2 separate regions of the Homo sapiens genome follow, and region 1 is linked to region 2. A link means that fine-mapping ties the variant in region 2 to the expression of a gene that starts in the linked region. Tissue or cell type: whole blood. Region 2 holds a variant in brackets; the other region holds the start of a gene. All regions are shown on one strand. Distances are from middle to middle.

Region 1 (8,161 bases), 220 kb before region 2:
AAATTCATGTTGTCTCTCTAATTCTCACAATTTTCTTAAATATTGACATTATATGCCCTATTCTATAGTAAAATAAACTGGTATTCTGAAAGGTGGAGCAGCTTACCCAGGGCACACAGCTACTAGGAGGGGAGCCCATGACACAGGCCCCCCATCCTAGCCCAGAGCTCTTTTAATGAGCCCCCATGCATCCTCAGCATGGGTTAATTTACCCTGTCCTTAGCAGACAGCAGAACAGAATAGAATGAGGCTAGCGTTAATAAGCTCTGACTGAGGAGGAGGGGAGCAGCAGAGGGCCTGGTTTTGGTAGATGGGAACTGAGGACTGCTGTACACAGTCCTGGGCAGCCAGGAGTAACAGGGCAGCATGGACCTGGGCCTTAGAGAGAGGAGAAAGTCTAAGACGAGACACGTGTTGGTGACAGTGCCAGCTTTTACAGGATCTCCCATCACCCACCTCTTTTTTTTTTTTTTTTTTTTCTGATTAAGGAACTTGCTGTGGATGAGGTGGTTGAGGCCAATGTGGTCAAAAAATATTCAGGAAGCATATTCATACTGAACAAGCAGACCACAGGTGCAACACTTGGGGATCACAAAGCCTTAGCCTTCCATGGCACAGGGGAAAGCAGTGGTTTGAATCAGAGCTGTTTGAGTGAAATCAGTAACAAAGTGCTTCAGGGAAGAAATCTCATTTTCAAGAGCAGATTTCGAGATGATTCAAAATTGGAACATCTGACAGTGGGGTCCTGCAGGAACATTCTCCAGGGCCTGACTAGTTGTTCTAAACCACAGGTAGGTCCAGGGCCTTTTGGCAAGCTGTGCAAAGATCCCAAGTCATTTGCACTCAGTACTTGATGAGCAAAGGCAGCCCTGTCAGGGGCAATGATACCAGCCAGTGTGAAGGACAACTGTGCAAATGGGAGGGTCCACTCCATCCTGGTGACGGAGAGGGATGTTTTGTTCAGTGGTCTGTGCACACGTGCACTTTGTTCCAGCTTCTGCTGGCGAAATCACTTTCTGATTTCTGCATTCTTCCTTTGATCATGCCCAGTAAGAACTCACCCTCCAAGCATGAAAAATCCTTCCATTACTGAAAACCTATGTGTCAGGTTTTACCATGATATATTCCTACGAAGTAGATAGTCTCACCTCCCTTTTCTAGCTGAGGACTGTCACCTCTGGAAACAGGAAGGGGCTTGCTCAATACTGCACAGCTAAGTCAGCGACTCCCACTGTGACCAGCCCCGAAGCCTGAGCACACTAGAGAGTTTCAGAGCCGACCATCCCTGGGATGGTTGTGAATGGCACTGCCTGGCCCACATACATGCGATGAAGGGCACAAAACTTGCATTTCCGGCATACCAAGAAATCCCTCTCACTCTAAGAGTTTCCAGACCTGCTCGCAGCTATACATTGAGACCAGGAGAGCCTCAAGAGGCCCAAAGCCTGTGTCAAATGCTCTTCCAGAAGCCCTCAGGAGAGTCCTCACCCATTTATGGATTAGACAAACTAGACCACACACTCCTGGAGTGCTGTAGCACAGCTGGAAGGTATTCAATAAATCCTCCCTTTTCCTGTCCTCACCATTTCCCATGTATGACATGATGGCCTACAACTACCATGGGCGTCTTGGAATTCTCTTGAAGCTGGTCTGGGGTGCAGGTTTCATCACACTCCTGCTAGAGTCATAGACAGATGCACTAAGCACTTACTTCTTGCCAGCCATGCTGCTTTGTTGTTTGGATACATCATGTATTCGAGTGCTTCCAGCAGCGCATTGGAGCGGATATTACCATTATCCCAATAGAAATGAGCTACTTGGGAGGCTGAGGTGGGAAGATCACTTGAACCCAGGAGGTCAACACTGCAGTGAGCTGTGATCACACCACTGCACTCCAGCCTGGATGAAAAAGCAAGGCCCTGTCTCAAAAAACAAACAAACAACAACAACAACAACAAAAACAAGACACTGAAGGGGGGAAAGTTACATCACTGGTCTAATATATTACTCAGAATAAACAGTAGACATGAGACGTAAGCATGAGCCTTTCTGTCTTCACAATCTGAGTTCCTAATCAATCAGTCCTTTATTTAGCCTCCCTTGGAAGTCTCTGGAACTTCTCTAGGCCTCACCCCTGTGGTGGTCCTAGTGACCCCAGAGCTCCCCTTAGTCACAGAGTGAAGAACTGAAGCAGCAGCACCTTAGAGTCAGAGGAAGTCACAGGCCCATGGACGCCTAACGATATCCTCAGTATTGGGCTGGAAGTGTAATTAGGGAAACACTCTGACTTGTGCTATCTCTGCAGCAGGTTTGGGAATTGTAGCCCCATCGGTGCTTGTAAGACTAATGACTGCACAAGAAATCTTCCAACCATAAAAACTGGTATTTCCTACATCCTGGAAAGGATGCTACTCTAAAACTTTGCCTGCTACTCCAAATGCTATTTTTTTTAATTGCTAACAATTTAGATAGCTTCTATAATATTTCAAAATTTGTAATAAGCTCCCTCAGAGCCTAAGCAGAGAGAAACAGAATCTCATGACCTCCTACACTTACCTAGACTGTGGTACTTTGGCCCTGTCCTCTTATCTTGACTGAGAATGGCATATGATTTTGTTTTATCTTATTTTAGAGAGAAACATTTAGATTATATGTCTTTTATCTATGATCTGGTTCCGATTTTTTTTTTCCCTCAGAAAGACAGTGTTCAGTTCTATTCTTCAGAGCAGAAAATCAGTCTCTTAACAAATCATCCACAAAATGCACTTCGAAATTCTGGAGAAAAAAAAGATGCATTGTGCACAGCCTAGCAACTGTGAATTGATTAATTCTAACCCATGTTTTTTCTCATTAGGTCTAAAATCCCACCATGCTAACTGCCCATTATTTTCTGTACTGTTTATTTTCTGCACACCAAATAAAAGGCCTTGACCCTTCAAGGAATAACCCAATTTCTCCAGAGGAAAGATATTATTTGACCAGAATATCCTTTTACAACAAAATAAGGATCACAACCTTACCATATAAAGCTGTTGAAAACAAGACTAAGTAAGTTCTGAATGTAACCAATTAGAATTTCTACAATATGTGGGTGCTGCTGATCAAATTGTTAAAGGGTTGTGTGCTTGTGGATTAGTTTTTTTTTTCTTTTTTCTTCTCAGTTTTGGCTTTAGTATCGTTTTGTTTTGTTTTGCAAGAATGAAAGGGGAAGGGCCTCCTAACCAACCCAACAGATCAGTTCCGGCAAGCCTCGAGGCTCACGGGGTTTATGCACACTAACTTCACTGAGCCAGGGAGCACGGAAGTTGTGCCACTGTGCAACTTGGGTTTTCTTTATCCTGCAGTCTTTACCTCAGCAGAACCGCACACCACAGACTCCCTCCAGCTCTTTGTGTGTGGCTCTCTCAGGGTCCAACAAGAGCAAGCTGTGGGTCTGTGAGTGTTTATGTGTGCTTTTATTCACTTCACACTTATTGAAAAGTGTGTATGTGAGAGGGTGGGGTGTGTGTGTCAAAGAGAGTGAGGAAGAGAAGGAGAGAGAGATCAATTGATTCTGCAGCCTCAGCTCCAGCATCCCTCAGTTGGGAGCTTCCAAAGCCGGGTGATCACTTGGGGTGCATAGCTCGGAGATGCAGTCCCCCTGGAAAATCCTTACGGTGGCGCCTCTATTCTTGCTCCTGTCTCTTCAGTCCTCGGCCTCTCCAGCCAACGATGACCAGTCCAGGCCCAGCCTCTCGAATGGGCACACCTGTGTAGGTATGCAAATAAATATTTTTGTATTTTCTATGTAGACATAACAATGGGATCCAGTACTTTGCTTGCGTAATAAATCACATATTTTATTAAATCAAGAATTGTAAGATTCCAGGTAAGGCACCAGTAACCTCACTGACACAGAGAAATGTGGAGTCTAAGAGTAGACATTGACACTACATACATCTATGTGAATAAAAAGCATACTAGTTTAAATTGGGCATAAAACTCTTCCACCTCATTGGCGATTGGAATTTTTTCTTCTTGTATAGGTAACTATTATTTCAGGCTATTTTAGTCTGAAATTTTTACTGCTTTTCATGGGCTTTGACCTCATATAAACACATCTGAGTTTGAATCACTGCCCTCCTCCTACCCTTCTCTCCCATTTCCTACTGGCTGTGGAAACCTGGAGCAATGTACTTAACCCTCTCCATGCTTCTGTGTCCTTATTGGTGAACTGAAGTGAGTGAGACCCATCTCATAGGGATACCATGGAAATTGTGACCATGCATGTAAATCTGTGGCATGTGCACACAGTAAGGACTCAACCATCTTAGCTTCCTTCCGTCTCTCAGAGAATCCAGATTTGGCGATCACCTGGAGACGCTGAGCGTTGATATGGCTTCTTGGCTCATCTGTTAATGAAGTGTTTTATTTCCAAGAGGTTTTTTTTGTTTGTTTTTTTTGGATGAGAGCAGGAAGTAAGGTAAGATCTTTGATATTCACATTGTAGCTCTCATAACATGGGAATTCTCATAATAGTGGTGGCATTTAGATGGTACAGTCCATGGAGCCACATAGACTCAGAACTCTGAGTAGTAAGTAATTGTTCAATGAGCAGACCTCAAAATACAATCCTAGCTTGAGAAGCCAGGAAAATAACTCTAGGATAAGTCTGATGGCTACATGCTGCAAATGGAAAATCTGGACACAGATTCTGACACTTAGGAATTGTTTCTGGAGACAATATGGAAATATATCTGAATTTGTCCTACTTCCTCAAAATCATGGCCTCAGGTCATTGTACATGTTAGGAGATGCATCTCTACTTCCAAAGTCCTTTTTTTTTTTTTTTTTTTTTTTTTTCTGAGATGGATTATCGCACTGTCACCTGGGCTGGAGTACAATGGTGCAGTCTCAGCTCACTGCAACCTCTGCCTCCCTGGTTCACACAATTCTCCTGCCTCAGCCTTCGGAGTAGCTGGGATTACAGATGCACACCACCACACCCAGCTAATTTTTTGTATTTTTAGTAGAGATGGGGTTTCCCTATGTTGGCCACACTGGTCTCGAACTCCTGACCTCGTGATCCGCCCCCCTTGGCTCCCAAAGTGCTGGGATTACAGGCATGAGCCACCGCGCCCAGCCTCCAAAGTCTTGTTTTAATTAAGACCCAGATTCCCCAAGACTATTTTCCAGAGACCTGAAGGCAGAGGTGTGTGGTCCTTTGAACCATGCCTGGGAGATCATCCTCCCCCAGTATTTGGTTTCCTTAAATAACTATTTGCCACCTTTTCATTTTTCTCAAAACAAAACCCTACTGCCCATCAAATGGAAATACACTTGAGAAAAGCTCAGATGAAATCAGTTTTACTTCTGGGCTCATTGCAAACTAAATGTTTGAGTTTGGGCAAGTTGTCAGGGCTGAGATCCTTGGACCTTCACTTCAGTAAAATGGACAGGAGGTACACATTCCTTTCTCTGCCCTGTTCCCAGTGAGGTCATAGAGGGTAAGAAGGAGGTGTTGGGGAGATTTCAGGATGGGGTTGCTCTGGTTTTTCTATTATTGCTGCATCAAAAATTACAATAATAACCATTTGTTGTATTATGATTTTATGGGTGAAAAATTTGTTCGAACACTGGCTGGTGATTCTTCTTCTCCATGTAGGAGTGACCGAGGTTAGGAGGTGGTATTCGGATGGTGGATTGATGGATCTGGGACTGACAAAAACAGCTTCACTCACATATTTGGCACCTTAGGGGTGAGGGAATGGCTAGAGGGTTGGCTCATCTGGGAGTGCCATCAGAGTGCCCACACATGGCTATCTTGGGTAGTAGGCTTTCTTACCTGGCAGCTTAGGAATCCCAGAGAGAATTCCAAAAGACAGGAATTAGAAGCTGCCAATCTTTCAAGTTTTGGGTCTGGAAACAGGCACAGCATTACTTGCCATCTTCCATTGCTCAAAGCATTCACAAGTTCCTCCACCCAGACTCAAAGGGAGGGGGCAGAGACCCTTCATTTTGATGGAGAGGGTCAAGAAATGTGTGGTCATCTCTATCATTCACAGAGGTTCACTTTGGTTGCCCATACAAATTCTCATGGCCCCAAGGGCTTGGAGACTCTGTTGCTGATTAGGTTTGAGGATGATTTAGCATCCATTTTCCCAGCAACTCCCAACTTCTTCTGGTTAACTCTGCCTGGGTGACTTATTCACCTGTTGTCATAATAGCAAGAAAGGTGGGTGCAAGAGGAGTCCAGTCTTGTGATGAACACTTACTGAGCACTGCCTATGTGCTGAGACAGGGGCTGAAGGTGGTCCAACTTGGTGCTTCACTGATTGAAGTTGGCTTTTGGGGGAGACAGGATTAGAAATGTGTGTGCAGGGGAGTTTATTGAGAAGTGCTCTTGGCAAAAAGACGAGCAAGAGAGGAAGGCAGTGGGGTTGGCAGAGAGAAGCCGGGCTGTGCTGCAGCCATAAAAGAAGTCCCACTGAGAGCTCTGGGACTAAAATAGCTCTTCAGAGTTGTCCTGAAGTAGGTGCAGGTCTTGGAATTCCCACATCAAACAGTCCCTCGATGTGACCTGACCACAGGGGAGGGCTGTAATTTTGAGACATCTCCCGTTGGTGGAGACAGTTCTGGCAAGGGACTCTGATGCTGGCATAATCCTTCAGACCAATGGCTCCAGAAGCTGGGGAGCGAGTGTCTCCTGATACGGGATCCTGGGGTGTACCTGCTGGAAGGGTTGTATGTGGGAAGCATCTCAGGAAGCAGTGAGGTCCGCTCTCTCGCAGCTGGTGGGAAGAGGAAGAAGTGTGTGGAAGAGAGGAGAAAAGAGAAGGAATTGTTGATTGGAGTTCTTCTAACTCTACATTTGTTGCCAACACCCTAACAACTTTCTGACAAAAAGCAGGGTTACATGACTTCAAACCCTCCAGCAGAAAGGTGGTCCCCAAACATTTCCGCGCACTCAGTTCTCACATGGCCACTGAATATGCGAGAGCAGGGATACACAGATGAAGGAGAGGAAGGATTTTTAGAATGTCTGTCTTCAGGAAATTCACTGTCCAGTTTAGAGGAAAACGAAAACCTGGAGCCTTGTAAAGATTACAGTCCTTTAAAATGAATGTTGAACTGGGCCCTTAGTGCCCTTGATAATACCCTTTCTCTAAAACTCTTTAAACTGCCAATGCCAGAGCCAGCAGAGCACCATGAAGTGCAGGGCAGAGGCTCATAGCTTGGAAGCAGGCACTGCAGACTCCGCTCATAAAGCCACCTGGGGAAGGTGAAGTAATAGCCTCAAAAAGAGTGTTTAAAACTTTAAGATTTTAGGTCGTGTGTGGTGGCTTACGCCTGTAATCCCAGCACTTTGGGATGCTGAGGTGGGCAGATCACGAGGTCAGCAGATTGAGACCTGCCTGGTCAATATGGTGAAACCCTGTCTCTACTAAAAAAAAAAAAAATGTAAATATAGATATACAAAAATTAGCAGGACACGGTGGGGCATGCCTGTAGTCCCAGCTACTCAGGGAGCTGAGGCAGAAGAATCGCTTGAACCCAGGAGGCAGAGGTTGCAGTGAGCCGAGATCACATCACCACGCTCCAGCCTGGGCGACAGAGCGAGACTCCATCTCAAAAAACAAAACAAAACAAAAAAAAAAACTTTAGAATTCTAGAAACATTTCTACCTGAATATTGCTAGTCAAAGAAGGAAGCTTCAGTTATCTCAAAGATTCTGTTGCATTCACCTGCTTGCTGAAAGAACCCAGGCCACAGAAACTTTTCTGAGCAAAAGGTGATTAGGCAGCTGGATTTCTGATCATCCCATCTGAGCAAGAATGATTCATCTTTTTTTTTTTTTTAATAAAGACAAAGTCCTACTCTATCACCCAGGCTACAGTGCAGTGGTACAATTATAGCACACTGAAGCCTCAACAGCCCAGGCTCTAGTGATCCTCCCACCTCAGCCTCCTGTGTAACTGGGACTACAGGTGCACACCACCATGCCTGCCTAATTGTTTTATTTTTATTTTCGTGGAGACAGGGTCTCATTATGTTGTCCAGGCTGGTCTCAAACTTCTGGGCCCAAGCAATCTGTCTGCCTCAGCCTCCCAAAGTGCTGGGATTATAAGCATGAGCCACCGTGTCCAGCCCTCTTCATTTTTGTTAGTTGTCAGCTGTCTTT
Region 2 (8,161 bases):
TATTGCTGCACAGGTGCCCCTTGAGCTACTGTCTTCAGCCTTGAGTTTTCCAGAATGATGGTGTCTGAGGATTGTCCACTGACAGGCACCTGAAGGGCTTTCCTGGGTTGGCATGCTGCCCTCCCCATCTCCCCATTCCTGGAGGGGCTGTGGAAAAAAGCACCGGAACCTGAACTGCAGGCTCCATGAGATGGGTACCTGGCCGGTCATGTGTACTCCTGTGTCCAACCCCCAACACAATGCCTGACCACTGCAGACGCACAAGAAATAGCACTGAATGAATGAGTGAATGAGAAGTTAGTGTTGCTCTCCAGGTCACACTGTTATTTCTTGCTATTTAAAAGTAAAATCAGCAGCCTCTTTTTTGACACATTTGAATTAGACCCATTGAATCACGCTCCTCGCTCATCACGGTGAGAAGAGTGAGAAAGAAAAGCCATCAGAGGCGCCTTCTTCCCTGGGCACACTTGGTGAGGGGACTTGGGGCTCTTATGTGATCTTCATCTAAATACCCCAAAACTCTATTATAATTTCTGTCTCCCAGCCGAGCACTGTGGCTCACACCTATAATTCCAGCACTTTGGGAGACGGAGGTGGGAGGGTCACTTGAGCTCAGGAGTTCAAGACCAGCCTGGGCAACATGGTGAAACCCTGTCTCTACAAAAAAAAAAAAACAAAAAAAAAAACAAAAATTAGCTGGGTGTGGTGGCACACACCTGCAGTCCTAGCTGCTTGGGAAGATCACTTGAGCCCAGCAGGAGGTCGAGGGAGTGAGCCCAGACTGCACCGCTGCACTCCAGCCTGGGGGATAGAATGAGACCTTGTCTCAAAAAAAAAAAAAAAAAAAAAGAAACAGATACTCTCTCCTGTTATCAGAGGAGAGACCTGGCTTGCCCTACACTATTGAAATAGAGCTCACTATTTGCCACATGAGTAATTACCAAAATTTCTATTTCCACCCACCATGAGCATTTTTCATTTCATGCTGAGCCTTTTGGGTTCAGGCCCTGGTGACAAAAATAAAGTCAGCCCCCCAGAAAAAGCAGATCAGCTAAAAATCTCTATATGGGACTTGTATTGATACACAATGTGACCGGACCTGAATCTCCCCAGAATCCGCACCAGCTTCCCAATCCCTCCCTGCTCTGTCACTGATTTAATCCAACTGAGAAAATTTTCTTAACTAGGGTCCTTAGGGATCCCCAGAATTAATAGTGCCTGTAAACTTGAATGGGAAAAAAAATAAGTCTTCACTGTCTTCTAAATGCTAATGCTAAAATTTAGCATTTCCTTTCATAATGAATGTAGGTAACAAAACACAGCTGAATTAGTCCTTGTCACAAATATTTTCACATCACATTGCAGTTGTTGCAGTTACTGTTGCTTATTTTTTGTAGCAGTTATGTTCTATAAAGTTGCCATGAACACTGAATTAGCACATGCTGAACCATTGTCCTTAGGGGAAGTACAAGGCTAGGTTCCTGTGAGCCTGCAGTCTCAACATTTTCACCAACCAATCAATATATAACTGTTTTCCGTGTGGCTTTTGTTCAAAAGACACCGTATTTAATATACAGTGGATTCATTAACATTGACCGCACAGGCAACAGCACTGTAACTCCTGCCTGCAAAGAGCTCATCTACCACTGGGGTGATTTTCTTGGTGCGGCACGTTGCAGTCTTCTGTGGCACATCACTTAGCAGCACTAGCTAGCACTTCAGCACTGCCCTTCATGGCCATTTTAAACAGCAACATCACCGGGAAAAAGCATGAAATGCCAAAAATGTGGCACTAAGTATACTGCGAAGAGGACACAGGTTTGCAGTATGAGAGCTGAAACAAGAAGGCAAAACTTGACCGGTCGCAGTGGCTCATACCTGTCATCCCAGCACTTTGGGAGGCCGAGGCAGGTGGATCACCTGGAGGTCAGGAGTTCGAAACCAGCCTGGCCAACATGGGGAAACACCGTCTCTACTAAAAATACAAAAATTAGCTGAGCGTGGTGGTGTGTGCCTGGCATCCCAGCTACTCTGGAGACTGAGGCAGGAGAATCACTTGAACCTGGGAGGCAGAGGTTGCAGCGAGCCGAGGTCATGCCATTGCATGCCAGCCTGGGCAACAAGAGCAAAACTCTGTCTCAAAAAAAAAAAAAAAGGCAAAACTTCACTTTGCCAACCAATCTCATCTGGGGAACATGCCAGTTGGGCAACTCAAATTTGTCATTGGTCTGTGCATGGGCACAGATGACTGCAAAGGCGCCACAAGTATACATTAATGTTACAAATAAATTTTAGCAAGGAGGTGAATTCACAAATATGTGATCAGTGAACGATGCCGATCAACTATATCTTATACTTTAAAACATCAATACCTTAAAACAACTGTAGTTATTAGAACCAACTCTGGATCTGGTTATTAACACGTTCAAAAAGAAGCCCATATATTTATATATGCTCATTTGTGAATATCTCAAAATATTCTTTGATATTCTATTTCAATAGAATTGGTTTTCTTCGTAATCCTACATGTTTTGTTTTTTTGCATTTAAAAATGTTATTCTGGCTGGGCATAGTGGCTCACGCCTATAATCCCAGCACTTTGGGAGGCTAAGGTGGAAAAACTGCTTTAGCTCAGGAGTTCCAGACCAGCCTGAATATCACAGTGAGATCCCGTCTTTACCAAAAGTCAAAATGATTAGTTGGGCATAGTGGCACATGCCTGTGGTCTCAGCTACTTAGGAGGCTAAGGCGGGAGGATGGCTTGAGCCTGGAAGTTCAAGGCTGCAGTGAGCCATGATCTTGCCACTGCACTGCAGCCTGTTGACAGAGCAAGACCGTGTCTAAAATAAAATAAAATGAAAATGTTATTCTGAGAAGGGATCCTCAGGCTTCCCCAAACTGCCAAGGGGCTGCATGGCACAAAAAGGATGTATGCGCTGTGGGTGGGGTGGGGGTGCTTTGAGAAGGAAGAACTCCAAAGTCTGAAAAGTTTGGATGCACAGCATAATTTATTTGCTTCCTGGAAAGTCACAGGGTGAAAATTCTACAGTAAAAAAGTCTGGGCCGGGTGCAGTGGCTCACCCCTGTAGTCTCAGCATTTGGGAGGCCAAGGCAGGCGGATCACGAGGTCAGGAGATTGAGACCATCCTAGCCAACATGGTGAAATACAAAATACAAAATTTAGCTGGGTGTGGTGGTGCGCACCTGTAATCCCAGCTACTCCGGAGGCTGAGGGAGGAGAATCGCTTGAACCCGGGTGGCGGAGGCTGCAGTGAGCCGAGATCGCGCCAATACACTCCAGCCTGGGTGACAGAGTGAGACTCCGTCTCAAAAAAAAAAAAAAAACCAAAAAACTCTGCTCCGCTCATCATTTACCCAAGATTTTGACCTAAGCTTTTTGTTCTCATGATGCCTATTAACACTCTGTGGCATCTGCTTTTTCAGAAGCACCTTGGAAGATGTTGTTTAGAGGAATTAGCCTCTGTCTCACACACTCCCTGGCAGTGTCAAGAAAGGGATTTCCCAGGTATTTTAAGACCAGAATTCCCGACCTCTCATCTTTGGTGTGAGGCAGAATGTCTTTGGAATCCCTTTCATTGCAACAACAGCTTTCCTGGTGGAACCAAAAGTGACAAAGACAGCATCTCTCCTGGGCCCCAAGATGCATGGCGCACATTCACTGTGCTATATGGATTTCCTGATGGATGGATGCATCAATATGCTATTAACATGTCAGTTTCTCATTAAATCTGAGTACAGAACCCGTGTTTGCCTGGCGGGATGAACTCCCCTAATCTGATTTGGCAGAGGCTCTAGCATAAATATTCGTACAAGCTAAGGCTCTTTTAATCTGGGCCTTTGCTTAGGGTAAAGGGGAATGGGGAGAGGTTGCTTGTAAAGCCTGTTTTCTGGGTCACTTCTTAAAACTGCAGTATCAAAAATAATGGCCTCATCATCATGAACCTGTCGTTAAGGAGGATTACA[C/G]TTTGAAGCTCTTGGATGGATGGAAAGGCAGAGGAGAAATAAAGAGCACATGTTGAGGCTCGCTAAGGATTTATTTGGGTATTGTGCTCCTGGCTTGCTGCTTTGTTTATAATTAATTACATGGAGCATTTACAGGAAGACTTCCAGCCTCAGAGCGCTAATGTAACTCACAGGTTCACAAAGCTCCAGTCAATAAACCTCAGCAGAAAGACGGCTGAGAGGATGCACCAAGGGCTTCCATGACCTGTCCAGGCTCAAGGCAGCTTCAGACCCCAAAGACTTTCAGTTTCACCTAAGGACTCTGCCCTCCAAGATGCACACTTTGTACAGGCTCAGAAAAGCCCCCAGCTGTTAATATTATTACAGTGATTTTCTGCAAATATCAGTTGGAGCCAGGAGGTTGAGTGAGGCTGTAGGGGAGCAAAGGACTCTTCAGGGACAGGTAGAGACTCCAGGCTCGTGTAAGTCTCATGGAAAGAATGCAATTCTGCTCAGCTGCCTCCTGGAGCTGGGGACACATGGAAACACAATCAGTGGGAATTCATGAAGCAACAGGCCTTGGAAGCCTTAAGCTCCTGGTGCCTCAGTTACCTTCTCCTTAAAAAGGGAGCAATAGTACCATTTTCCAGCACTGTTGTGAGCATTAACAAGAGCTAATGCTTACAGAGGGGTAAGTGACAAGTAGAGTGCATATATGATCTCACTTAACCCTTACAGCAACCACATGTGGCAGGTCTGCTATGATTCCCTACTTTTACAGATAGGAGGCCGAGAACAATTAAGTAACTTGCCTGAGACTGCACAGCTAATACGTGATGAGTCAGGTGCCATGCATGGTGACTCATGCCTGCAATCCCAGCAATTTGGGAGGGCAAGGCAGGAGGATCGCTTGAGCCCAAGAGTTTGAGACCAGCCTGGAAAACATGGTGAGGGCCCTGCACAAAAATAAAAAGTCAGGCAGGCATGGTTGTGCACACCTATATTCTCAGCTACCCAGGAGGCTGAGGCTGAGGCTGAGGCAGGAGGATCGCTTGAGCCCATTTCAATGATTGCACCACTGCAATCCAGCCTGGGCAACAGGGTGAGACCCTGTCTCAATAACAATAATGTGATGAGTTATGATGTTGAAGGCAAGCCATTTGGCTCCAGGGTCCTTGCCCCTAGCTGCTAGGCTATCCTGCATTTATTAAGAAGATGACGTATGTAAAACATGCTGAGTGGTGAATCAACAGTGGCTCTTAGCATCATTATAACCAGGATGTGATCTGACCACCACATGTGCTAGAGTCAGCTTTGTCTGTAGCGTAAACTCCAAACTCGTCACCTGCAGAGTCCATGTCTCTCCAGGCTCTCTCTCCCGCCCATTTCTTCTTTGATCCTGCATCCCAGTCACAGGAAGCTTGTCATTACAAAACATGGGCAGTAGGTAAGTCTCCAAAGCTGGCTGCCAAAAATGGCCACCCTCCTGCGTGTGCCTGCTTCTCCTCCAACAAGAGGCGGCATCTTTCCCACCCCTTGAAGCTGGGCTGGCCCAGAGAAGGAAATGCAAGTGAGACTGCCACACCCAGGCCTTGCCCTTAGGAGGTGAAGCTGCCCTCTGCACCCTTTTAGATCTCACAGCCACCATGTTGAAACGGCTACATTGTCTGGGGTATATACCTGGCATTCATTGTTTCTCCCTGAGAAAGAATTCAGGACATGAACACATGTGGGTGGGTTAAGGAGTGGAAAGTTTAATAGAAGAAAGGAGACAGGAAAGCAGCTCCCTGTGAGAAAGAGAGAGAGAGAGAGAAAGGCATCTGAAAAGCAGGGAGGCAGCAGACTGCAGCAGATTTTATAAGCAGGCTGGGGAAGGCTGTGTCTGATTTACTTAGGGCTCACAGATTGGTTCTATCAGGTATGATGCTTACATAGTGTGGAAGGCTGGTCACCCCACCCTAATCGTATTATTCAGATGGACTTTTTAGTTGATCAGCGCCATCTTGTCTGCTCTTTACTGTACACATGGCTGACGAAGAAGGGAAGATGGAGCTGCCATCTTGAACATGTCTAGTCCCCAGTTCCTGCCAGCATTCACCCATGCAAGCTCCCAGCTTGCTTGTCTATGTCTGCAGCTAGACTTTACAGGCTGCTCTGTTATAAAATGAGTTGGCGCTGCTTTTCATTAGAGAGAAAAGACTTACCGAGGACTCCCATACCCTTACTATCTGCCTAAGTGATTTTTTTCTTAATTCCTTTATCAATGTGGGGAAGTCCAGGCTGCACTCCTGCAAGAGAAACCCTGGGGGATGACACACCACGTGAAGGAGAAAGGCTGCATGGAAAAAAACTGAGGTACCTCTGCCCACATTGAGGCCTCAAAAGTATGAATGAGCATTTGGACTTCCAGTCCAGCTCGAGCCCAGCCAACCCACAGAACCATGGGATATAATGCACTCTTCCTGTTTCAAGCCTCTAAGTTTCCGAGGGGGGTTTTATGCAGCAACAGTGAACTGAATAAAAGGCCCTCCCTCTCACAGCTCCATGCTTTTCCATAGGCTGTTTCCTCCAGGAAACTGGAACACTCCTTCTTCAAGATCCAGCTCCCGCATGGTTGTCATAGAGGGAAACATACCGACACACTCCTAGTCTACTGGAGGACATAAGTGTCTTTAGGGTTAGGTTCTACTGCTTATGGGTACAATCCAGAGTAATGATGGGTTTTTCTTTAAAAAAAAGAAAGGCTATTTTTCTCACATAAAGGACACCCAGTGGTGGGTGGTGCAGGGCTCAGACAGGACTCCATGTTGCCACGGACTCCTTCTGAGAGGTGAAGCCAGCTGGGCTTCTGAGTCAGGTGGGGCCTTGGAGAACTTTTCTGTCTAGCTAAAGGTTTGTAAACGCACCAATAAGCACTCTGTAAAAACGCACCAATCAATGCTCTGTGTCTAGCTAAAGGTTTGTAAATGCACCAATCAGCACTCTGTAAAAGCGCACCAATCAGCACTCTGTAAAAGCACACCAATCAGCACTCTGTGTCTAGCTAAAGCATTGTAAATACACCAATCAGCACTCTAAAAATGCACCAATCAGCACTCTGTGTCTAGCTAAAGGATTGTAAACGCACCAATAATCACTCTGTAAAATGGACCAATCAGCACTCTGTAAAATGGACCAATCAGCAGGATGTGGGCAGGGCCAAATAAGGTAATAAAAGCTGGCCACCGAGCCAGCAGCAGCAACCTACTTGGGTCCCCTTCCACGCTGTGGAAGTTTTGTTCTTTCGCTCTTCACATTAAATCTTGCTGCTGCTCACTCTTTGGGTCCGCACTACCTTTATGAGCTGTAACACTCACCGCGGAGGTCTGTGGCTTCACTCCTGAAGTCAGCGAGACCACGAACCCACCAGGAGGAACAAATAACTCTGGACACGCCACTTTTAAGAGCTGTAATGTTCACTGCGAAGGTCTGCGGCTTTACTCCTGAAGTCAGCGAGATGACGAACCCATCAGAAGGAAGAAACTCTGGACACGTCTGAACATCTGAAGGAACAAAGTCCGGATATACCATCTTTAAGAACTGTAACACCTCGAGGGTCCGCGGCTTCATTCTTGAATTCAGTGAGACCAAGAACCCACCAGAAGGAACCAATTCCAGACATATTTTGGTGACCCAGATGGGACTATCACCAAGCAGTGTGTACCATCAGACCCCTTTCACTTGCTATTCTGTCTTATTTTTCCTTAGAATTTGGGGGCTAAATACCAGGCACCTGTTGGCCAGTTAAAAGTGACTAGCACGACTGCCGACTAAAGACACAGGTGTCAGGCTTTCTGGGAAAGGGCTAACAACCCCCAACCCTTCAGATTTGGGAGCTTTGGTTTGCCTGGAACCAGCTTCTGCTTTTCCTGTACTTCTGGGCTGAGCTGAGGGTCGACAGAGAGGAAAGCCATTCAGCTCCAGGGTCCTGACAACAAGTTGGTTGACCCTGCAACCATGAGTGGAACTCTCAAAGTCATGTCGCCCAAGCAAAACTCACCCATCTATCCTATCTATCCTGACCCTTGCCTCCTGAGTCCTAATGCCTGTCAGACAAACTTCCTCTCGCCTCTCTTCTCCGAGGTTAGTCCCACTTCTAAAAACCACTCCCTGTCTCTGGTGCTTTTCTAGTTTCTTCTATAAGAATGATTTCTAGTAT

What was found. PIP is the estimated chance that this variant, and not a neighbour inherited with it, causes the effect.
Region 1: AOAH starts here. The variant in region 2 is fine-mapped to the expression of AOAH in whole blood (INTERVAL, PIP above 0.99).

The regions. Positions count from the first base shown.
Region 1 is chr7:36,719,617-36,727,777 of GRCh38, reverse strand. AOAH (acyloxyacyl hydrolase) reads left to right here and starts at 3,284. Exons shown (of 21, transcript NM_001637.4): 1 at 3,284-3,756. The coding sequence starts at 3,630.
Region 2 is chr7:36,503,672-36,511,832 of GRCh38, reverse strand. No RefSeq gene overlaps it. Among named protein-coding and RNA genes, the nearest start is that of AOAH-IT1, 92 kb to the left of the region's middle. RefSeq lists an enhancer at 5,275-6,474. The variant C/G (reference allele first, on the strand shown) is at 3,985.